Linked DNA regions of Homo sapiens. The protein of the gene in region 2 purifies or fractionates together with the protein of the main gene of each other region. This does not show direct contact. Each region holds a gene or a part of one and is shown on either strand. Other genes may lie near its edges.

Region 1 (3,654 bases), on a different chromosome or scaffold from region 2:
TTTGAATCACTTTTTTCCCCAAATGTCAAAAGGGGGTATATGGGGAACAAAAAAGATGGGCTCAAGTTGCTGGAGGCACTACCTCATGAATAGGCTGCAGAACTAAGGGGTTGACCAGGGGGATTCATGCAGATTCCCAGGGCAGTTTTTTTTTTTTTTTAAGACAGAGTTTCGCTCTTGTTGCCCAGGCTGGAGTGCAAGCATGATCTTGGTTCACTGCAACCTCCGCCTCTCAGGTTCAAGTGATTCTCCTGCCTCAGCCTCCTGAGTAGCTAGGATTACAGGCACCTGCCACCATGCTTGGCTAATTTTTTTTTTATTTTTAGCAGAGATGGGGTTTCACCGTGTTGGTCAAGCTGGTCTTGAACTCCTGATCTCAGGTGATCCATCTGCCTTGACCTCCCAAAGTGCTGGGATAATAGGCATGAGCCACCGCACCCGGCCCCCAGGGCACTTTTTGAAGGCACAGGTGTACAGGTCCTCAGATTTTGGACAGGTTCCAATTTGAATAATTATATTCTCTCTCCCTTAGTACCCCCTGCTGTTTCTGGTGGATACAGAATTCTTATTCACTCCCTGCACTAAACTGTTGTGTAGAGTTGCTGTGCAGCTGTTAAACAGCTGCCACATTTCTCTCCATATATAGTCTCTAAAGCATTTTTGGATGAAAGGAATTATATAAACATATTTTATTGTCATGTACTGGTTGCCTTACCACTTAGTTGTAGGTTTTGTGAGGTTGTAACTATTAAATTCAAATCCATATTCCACAGCACATCAACGTTTAATTTCTTCCCCCACCTGCTCTCCAATGCTCTCTAAACAGCAAGGCTCTTACCACAAGGGTCCGTAGACAGAGTGTCCCTGCAGGAGCACGGGGGTCCAAAGCAGCCACAAGATCCCACACTTTAATTTTTCTAAAGATCAAAAAGGGGACAAAAATGTTAGTTAAAAGCAAATGTAAGAGAAGGCAGGGAAGAATAGCAGAAATTCATGGCAATAAATATGGATGGTGAGTATAGTTCAAATGTACGTGATTAACCTACAAATGAGAAACAGGCTAGCTTTAACCAAACTGAAGACAGTTAACAGTAAAGTTATACCATACTTTGGGATCAAGAGGAGATCTTGTACATTAGACCTTTTAATGATATTACACAGACCTAGAAATCTACAACTGTGAAGCATCCTCTTCCTGGGCACTTCTAAGAGTGGCCCAGGTCACATGTACTGAGGGACTGGGGTCCATGTAAGAGCAATGGAGTTTATATAAGCAAGCCCTCATCTTTTGATTTAAATAAGATAAGTGTAGCTCTTCCAAAAATCTTTTAATAGGCCATGTTTCCTCAAGGTACATAGCAGACAAATTCCAAGACAGGTGGGTACAGATCAAAGCCAGGACAATAAGAAAATATTGTCTTGACCAAGCTGGAACATGTCACCACACTCTGAACAATTTCCCAAGGTTGTAACAGTGATGGCTGTCCCAAAGCAGAAGAAGTGAGCAGTCTACACTTCCTGCTGCTTGCATTGGCTAATGAATGTATCAGTGTAGTTAACTCATGAACTAAAATAATGTTGTTAGTTTCTGATATTTAAAAAGCTGCCAAAATCAGGCAGATTGACAAAAAGAAATGATAAGAGTTCTTCCTAAGTGAATAACTATTTTTTTTTCTTTTTTTGAGACGGAGTCTCGCTCTGTTGCCCAGGCTGGAGTGTGGTGGCGCAATCTTGGCTCACTGCAACCTCTGCCTCCCTGGTTCAAGCAATTCTCCTGCCTCAGCCTCCTAAGTAGCTGGGATTACAGGCGCCCGCAACCACACCTGGCTAATTTTTGTACTTTTAGTAGAGACTGGGTTTTGCCATGTTGGCCAGGCTGGTCTCGAACTACTGACCTCAAATGATCCACCTGTCTCGGTCTCCCAAAGTGCTGGGATTAAATGCATGAGCCATTGTGCCCAGACTACTTTTGTTTGAATTTACTCTGTGTTTAGGATTGGTGGACATGGGGTCCATTCACAAAATTAATGGATTCCATAACCACTAGAAATTAGAAGAAAATAAAGATGACTAAACTCATAAATGAAATGCTAGGATGACAAGTGATGACAAGAGAACTGTACTCTTAAAAATTACTCAAAGAGATAAAAAACCCAAGAAATCAAAATTCAAGATCTTACCACACTAAGTCCCCAAATACTGCCCTCTAGTGTTTCTGTTTTGTTAACAGGTTACCCTTTTACATGGGTAGCCTGTTAACACTGGGTTTTTCTTGTTCTTTGCTTTACAGGGCAAAACAGTCAAATACATAACCAAATAACCAAAATATGAATGACAACCATGTGCAAACAAGTATAATAAAATGAATGGGAAGAATATTTCAGGACACTAAACCAAGGAGAGGTAAATACACGGATTAAAGAAATATGGTATCAGATATTTTGTGTAAAATCTATAAGCTTTTAGAAACAAGGAATGGTTATGTTTAACACCATAAACATAAGGAAGGATTAAGACGTAGATTTTCTCTTTTTTACACTCTGTTAGCACACTCACCCATCATAGGCCCCACTGACTATCCTCTTGTTATCAAATCGAATACAACGCACCAATTCCTCATGGCCTTCTAACACTCGTAAACATGCACCACATTCTATGTCCCATAATCTGGAAGAGAAAATTAAGTCAGGTGAATTTTCACGTATTCTTTTCTAAGCCTGGAATGTTATAACAATACACCTCATATGCCTTCTAAAAATTCATAAAATAAAATCAATCACCACCCACACAGATATGTACTGCTTTCAATGTAATTTATTTCCTTTCTGCTATATAACTCACACAGAAATATGTAGGTTTAAGTTCAAATGTAAAATGTATTTTCAAAGCACAGGGCTTTACATAATTCTGTAAACAGGTTCTTCCAGGCATAAAAACGAATTCAATGCACGCAGTTGCCTGAGAAGGAAATGACCAAGCTAAGAAAGCAGTTTCCTGAAGTCACCAAACTGAAAGAGATACAGATTATCAGTGATGTCCTGTTCTCACAAAGCACCTCCCCCTCTGCCACGGCAGACACTTCTTTCACCACTGTCCAGGACAGCTCTTCTCAGAGAATAGAAATGCAAAGTCAGTTCTCAAGAACTTTTGTGTACTAATTATAAAAACTGTACGTTTTCAGAGCAATTCAAGTGATTTCTAGGAATAATTTCCTTAGATATAACAAACAGTAGCTCTTTTTTAATGGCCTTTTCATCCTTTTAATACTTCACTGAAGGGAGAGGATGGATAAATCTTCCAAATTATAATCATATCTATGTCATTCATCTTTGTGAAGGGAAAACCCCAAAAAGGACTTCCAACTGTGAAATCTTCATAATTTCAAAGACAGGTAACTCTCTGGCCAATTATGTAATGCTAAGACAAAAATTACATAATTTCTAGTAAGGAAACAAATCTTTCTTTTCATTTCTTAAAAACAATGGCAAAGAAAAGGCTGTTAGCTGTTTATTAGCACTTTTCAACGGTAGACAGGAGAAATTTAAAAAGAAGGGCAACAAAAGGCTTTGCTGTGCTGCTTCTCTGCCTGGGGCAAACTTCTGACCTGTAAGAAGCTACAGAAAGGAAAAACAGTTGATTATAAACATAACAAAA
Region 2 (3,274 bases):
TCCTCAGACCTTGTGTGTTGGAAAGGAGGTGGTTTGATAGCTTCCTGAGGGGAAGTTTGAGTGCAAAGGGAACATGCCTTAGTAATATATTTCAGATTGGCAGCCATGGCAGAAGAATGTATATAATTTTCTAAAAGCTGGAGTAGGGGCAGTAAGCAGCATGGAAATGGTTGTGCACATATGAAAGTACAGAAGGTTTTTTAAACTTGGACAAGACACTTTATCACTGAGATCAAACAATTTTTTCCTGAATGGCACCAGCCCGGGCAAGTGGGGTTCATTCCTTCTGGGTATATACAGGAAAAAATGAGCAATAACGATGGGGTTTTAAGGGCTGCCTGCCAGGCTGCCAAATTTGTTGAAAGGTTTCTCTCGGTTATGGCATCTTTAGACTTTCGGCACCCCTTGCAATGGATAATGGTGGCCTTTGGTGGTAGTTTATCCACCCCCAGCAGCTTATGTATAAGTTTGCCATTTCTTATGGGAGTTCCTTTTGTAGTTAGGAAACCCTGTTCCTGCCAGATGAAGGCATGAGACTGTAGGACATGGTATGCATATTTGGAATGGGTGTAAATGTTGACCCTCTTTCCCTTTGCTAGGGTGAGGGCCCTGGTTAGGGCAACTAGCTTAGGCTGTTGAGAGGTAGCATGGGGTGGCAGAGCATTGGATTCTAGGAGTTTATTTTCAGCAATGATGGAATAGCCAGCTGCTGGACATGGCTCCCTAAAAGAGCTTCCATTAACTAACCGTGTATGTGTTCCCTGCAAAGGGGCATGTGAAATGTGTTGGAAGGAGGAGGAGAGGGAGTCTAAGAGGTCCAGACAGGAGTGAGAGAGCCTAGAATCGGAAGTGTTTACAGGGAGGAGGGTGGCTGGGTTGAGAGTTTTATATCTCTGGAAGGGGATTAGAGGGCTACCTAGGAATAAGGCATGTACCTGTTATAAGCAGGATGGTAGGAGGGATAGAAGGGATTGATGGTTTATGAGGTCCTGTAGGTAATGGGAAGATGCAATAGTAATGTGTTGGTAAAGAGGGAGTTTCCGTGCCTCTAAGGCCAGCGATGTGGCCACAGCCAAGATTTTTAGTCAGAGTGACCAGCCTTGGTCACACAAAACAACAGAGTCCAGTTGTTTTGAGAGAAGTGCAGTGGCTTGTGTGGCGTTGCCGTATGTTTGGCAGAGTAGTCCAAGGGCAAGGCCCTGGTCAGAATGTACATACAAAGTAACGGGCTTGGTGAGGTTGGGCAGTCCCTGTGCCAGGGCCATTAAAAGGGCATTTTTAAGTTTTTAAGTGGGAGTTGATGGGGCAAGCTGGGTTTAGGGGTTTTAGGATGGGCCCATGTGAGGCCCTGTTTAGTGGCTTGGCCAGCAAGTCAAAATTGGGAACTGACAGCCAGAAGTAACCCACAAGGCCCGAGAAGGAGAGAAGGTACTTTTTTGTGTGAGGAAAGGGCATGTCCCAAATTAGCTCCTTTCATTGGGTTGGGATGGCTCGAGAATTAGGGGTTAGGACAAACCCAAGGTAAGTAACTTTGGTTTGGGCTACCTGAAATATTGTGGGCTAGGCCCAAACTTTGGTTTGGGCTACCTGAGATTTCCTCTATTATGGAGGAAGTTTAAAACCTAAGTGGTGTGTTGGATGGACAGGTTAAGGAAGGGGCTACAGAGAAGGAGTTTGACATGTTGCAGGAGGGTGCTAGCAGCAAGGGAAAGTTCACCTAGGTCCTTGATGAGGGCAAGTCTGAATAGGTGGGGGCTATCCTGGAACCCCTGTAAGAGTACAGTCCACTCTAGTTGGGTGCACATGTGAGTATTAGGACTTGACCAAGTTAAAGCAAAAAGACTTCTGTAAGCCGGATTTAAGGGAATGGTGAAATAGGCATCTTTCAGTTCCAATACAGAGGAGTGTGTAGTAGATTTAGGAATATGGGAGAGTAGAGCATATTGGTTGAGGACCACTAGATGTATTGGTACCACTGCCTGGTCAACAACTTGGAGATCCTGGACAAAGGGGTAAGTCCCGTCTGTCTTTTGGAAAGCCAGAATAGGGGTGTTCTGGGGAGAGTTAACAGGCTTGAGAATATGAGCTTGTTAAAGTTTACAAATAATAGGTTTGAGGCCCCTAAGCACGGCTGGATTAAGGGGATATTGAGACTGAAAAAAGAAAATGGAGGAGTTTTGAAAGGTTATTTTAACTGGGATGTGATGTGTGGCTATTGTGGGTTTAGAAACATTCCAAGCTTTAGAATTAACAGAAGGTAACAGGGTGGATAATGAGGATGAGTAGGGGGAGAGGGAAGCGTTTGGGTGTCGGAGTAAAATAAAAGGGGTAGAATTGTAGGAGCCGCATTGCATGGAGGCCTGGAATTTACTTAATATGTCCCACCCCAAGATAGGGGTAGGGGACTGAGGGATAACCAGGAAACAGTGGGTGAAGGGGGCTGTTGAATAGGTTGCATAATAAAGGACGAGTCTGTGCCTAGAGGGGATTTTATTGATTCTCACAATAGAGATCGAAGAACAGAAAAAGGGTCTAGAATATTCTGGTAAAACCGAGTAACTAGTTGTCGTATTGAGTATCCAATAGGAAAGACATGGACTTACTAGAGACTGACAGAATTACCCTGGGTTCCGAGGTGGTGATGGCAGTAGGGGTGGTGGACTCTAGGCCCCACCTGTCTTCAGGTACAGGTGGTGAAGCTAGATGAAGAGTTTCACTGAGCACAGTCTGACTTCCAGTGTTGCTTGATATCACAGATGGGGCAAGGCTTCCAGAGTGTCACGGGATTAGGCCAGGCTTTTGCTCAGTGTCCCTGTTGGATGCACTTATAACAGGCTCCTGGAGTTGACTGTTGCCAAGTTGAGGAATTCTGTATGCCTTGGGAACCCTGTTGAGTGGCAGCTATCAGCATTTGATATTTAGCCTGGCCCTTTTTTAGGTTTGGGTTTTTTAGTTCTTCCTCTCTAATCTTATAGACCTTAAAGGCCACTTTGATTAAGTCTCTTTGGAGGTTTGAGGGCCATCCTCCACTTTTTAAAGTTTTTTTTCAAATGTCTGGGGCTGACTGGGAGATAAAGTGTAAATGGAGGTAGATTTTGCCCTTAATGGTATTAGGGCTTAAGGTGGCATATTTAGTTGTGACCTTTGAAAAGGCGGGAGAGGAAAAGAGCAGGGGCGACTTTATTTATGCCAGCTAGAAGGCATGATATCATATGGCCTGGTTTCTGCCTGTCTACAGAAGTTGCCTGATAATTCCGATTGAGGTCAGTTCTGG

What was found. The genes of interacting proteins can lie anywhere in the genome.
Region 1: the proteins of SPANXN3 (region 2) and BTRC purify together in Homo sapiens (affinity purification with mass spectrometry; 4 studies listed by BioGRID and IntAct, with this or other methods). This does not show direct contact.

What each region holds. Positions count from the first base shown.
Region 1 is NC_000010.11:101,535,556-101,539,209, reverse strand, and holds part of BTRC (F-box/WD repeat-containing protein 1A), read right to left. Parts: intron 2,668-3,654; coding exon 2,557-2,667; intron 918-2,556; coding exon 839-917; intron 1-838. UniProt on the Homo sapiens protein: Substrate recognition component of a SCF (SKP1-CUL1-F-box protein) E3 ubiquitin-protein ligase complex which mediates the ubiquitination and subsequent proteasomal degradation of target proteins. Recognizes and binds to phosphorylated target proteins.
Region 2 is NC_000023.11:143,511,248-143,514,521, reverse strand, and holds part of SPANXN3 (sperm protein associated with the nucleus on the X chromosome N3), read left to right. Parts: intron 1-3,274.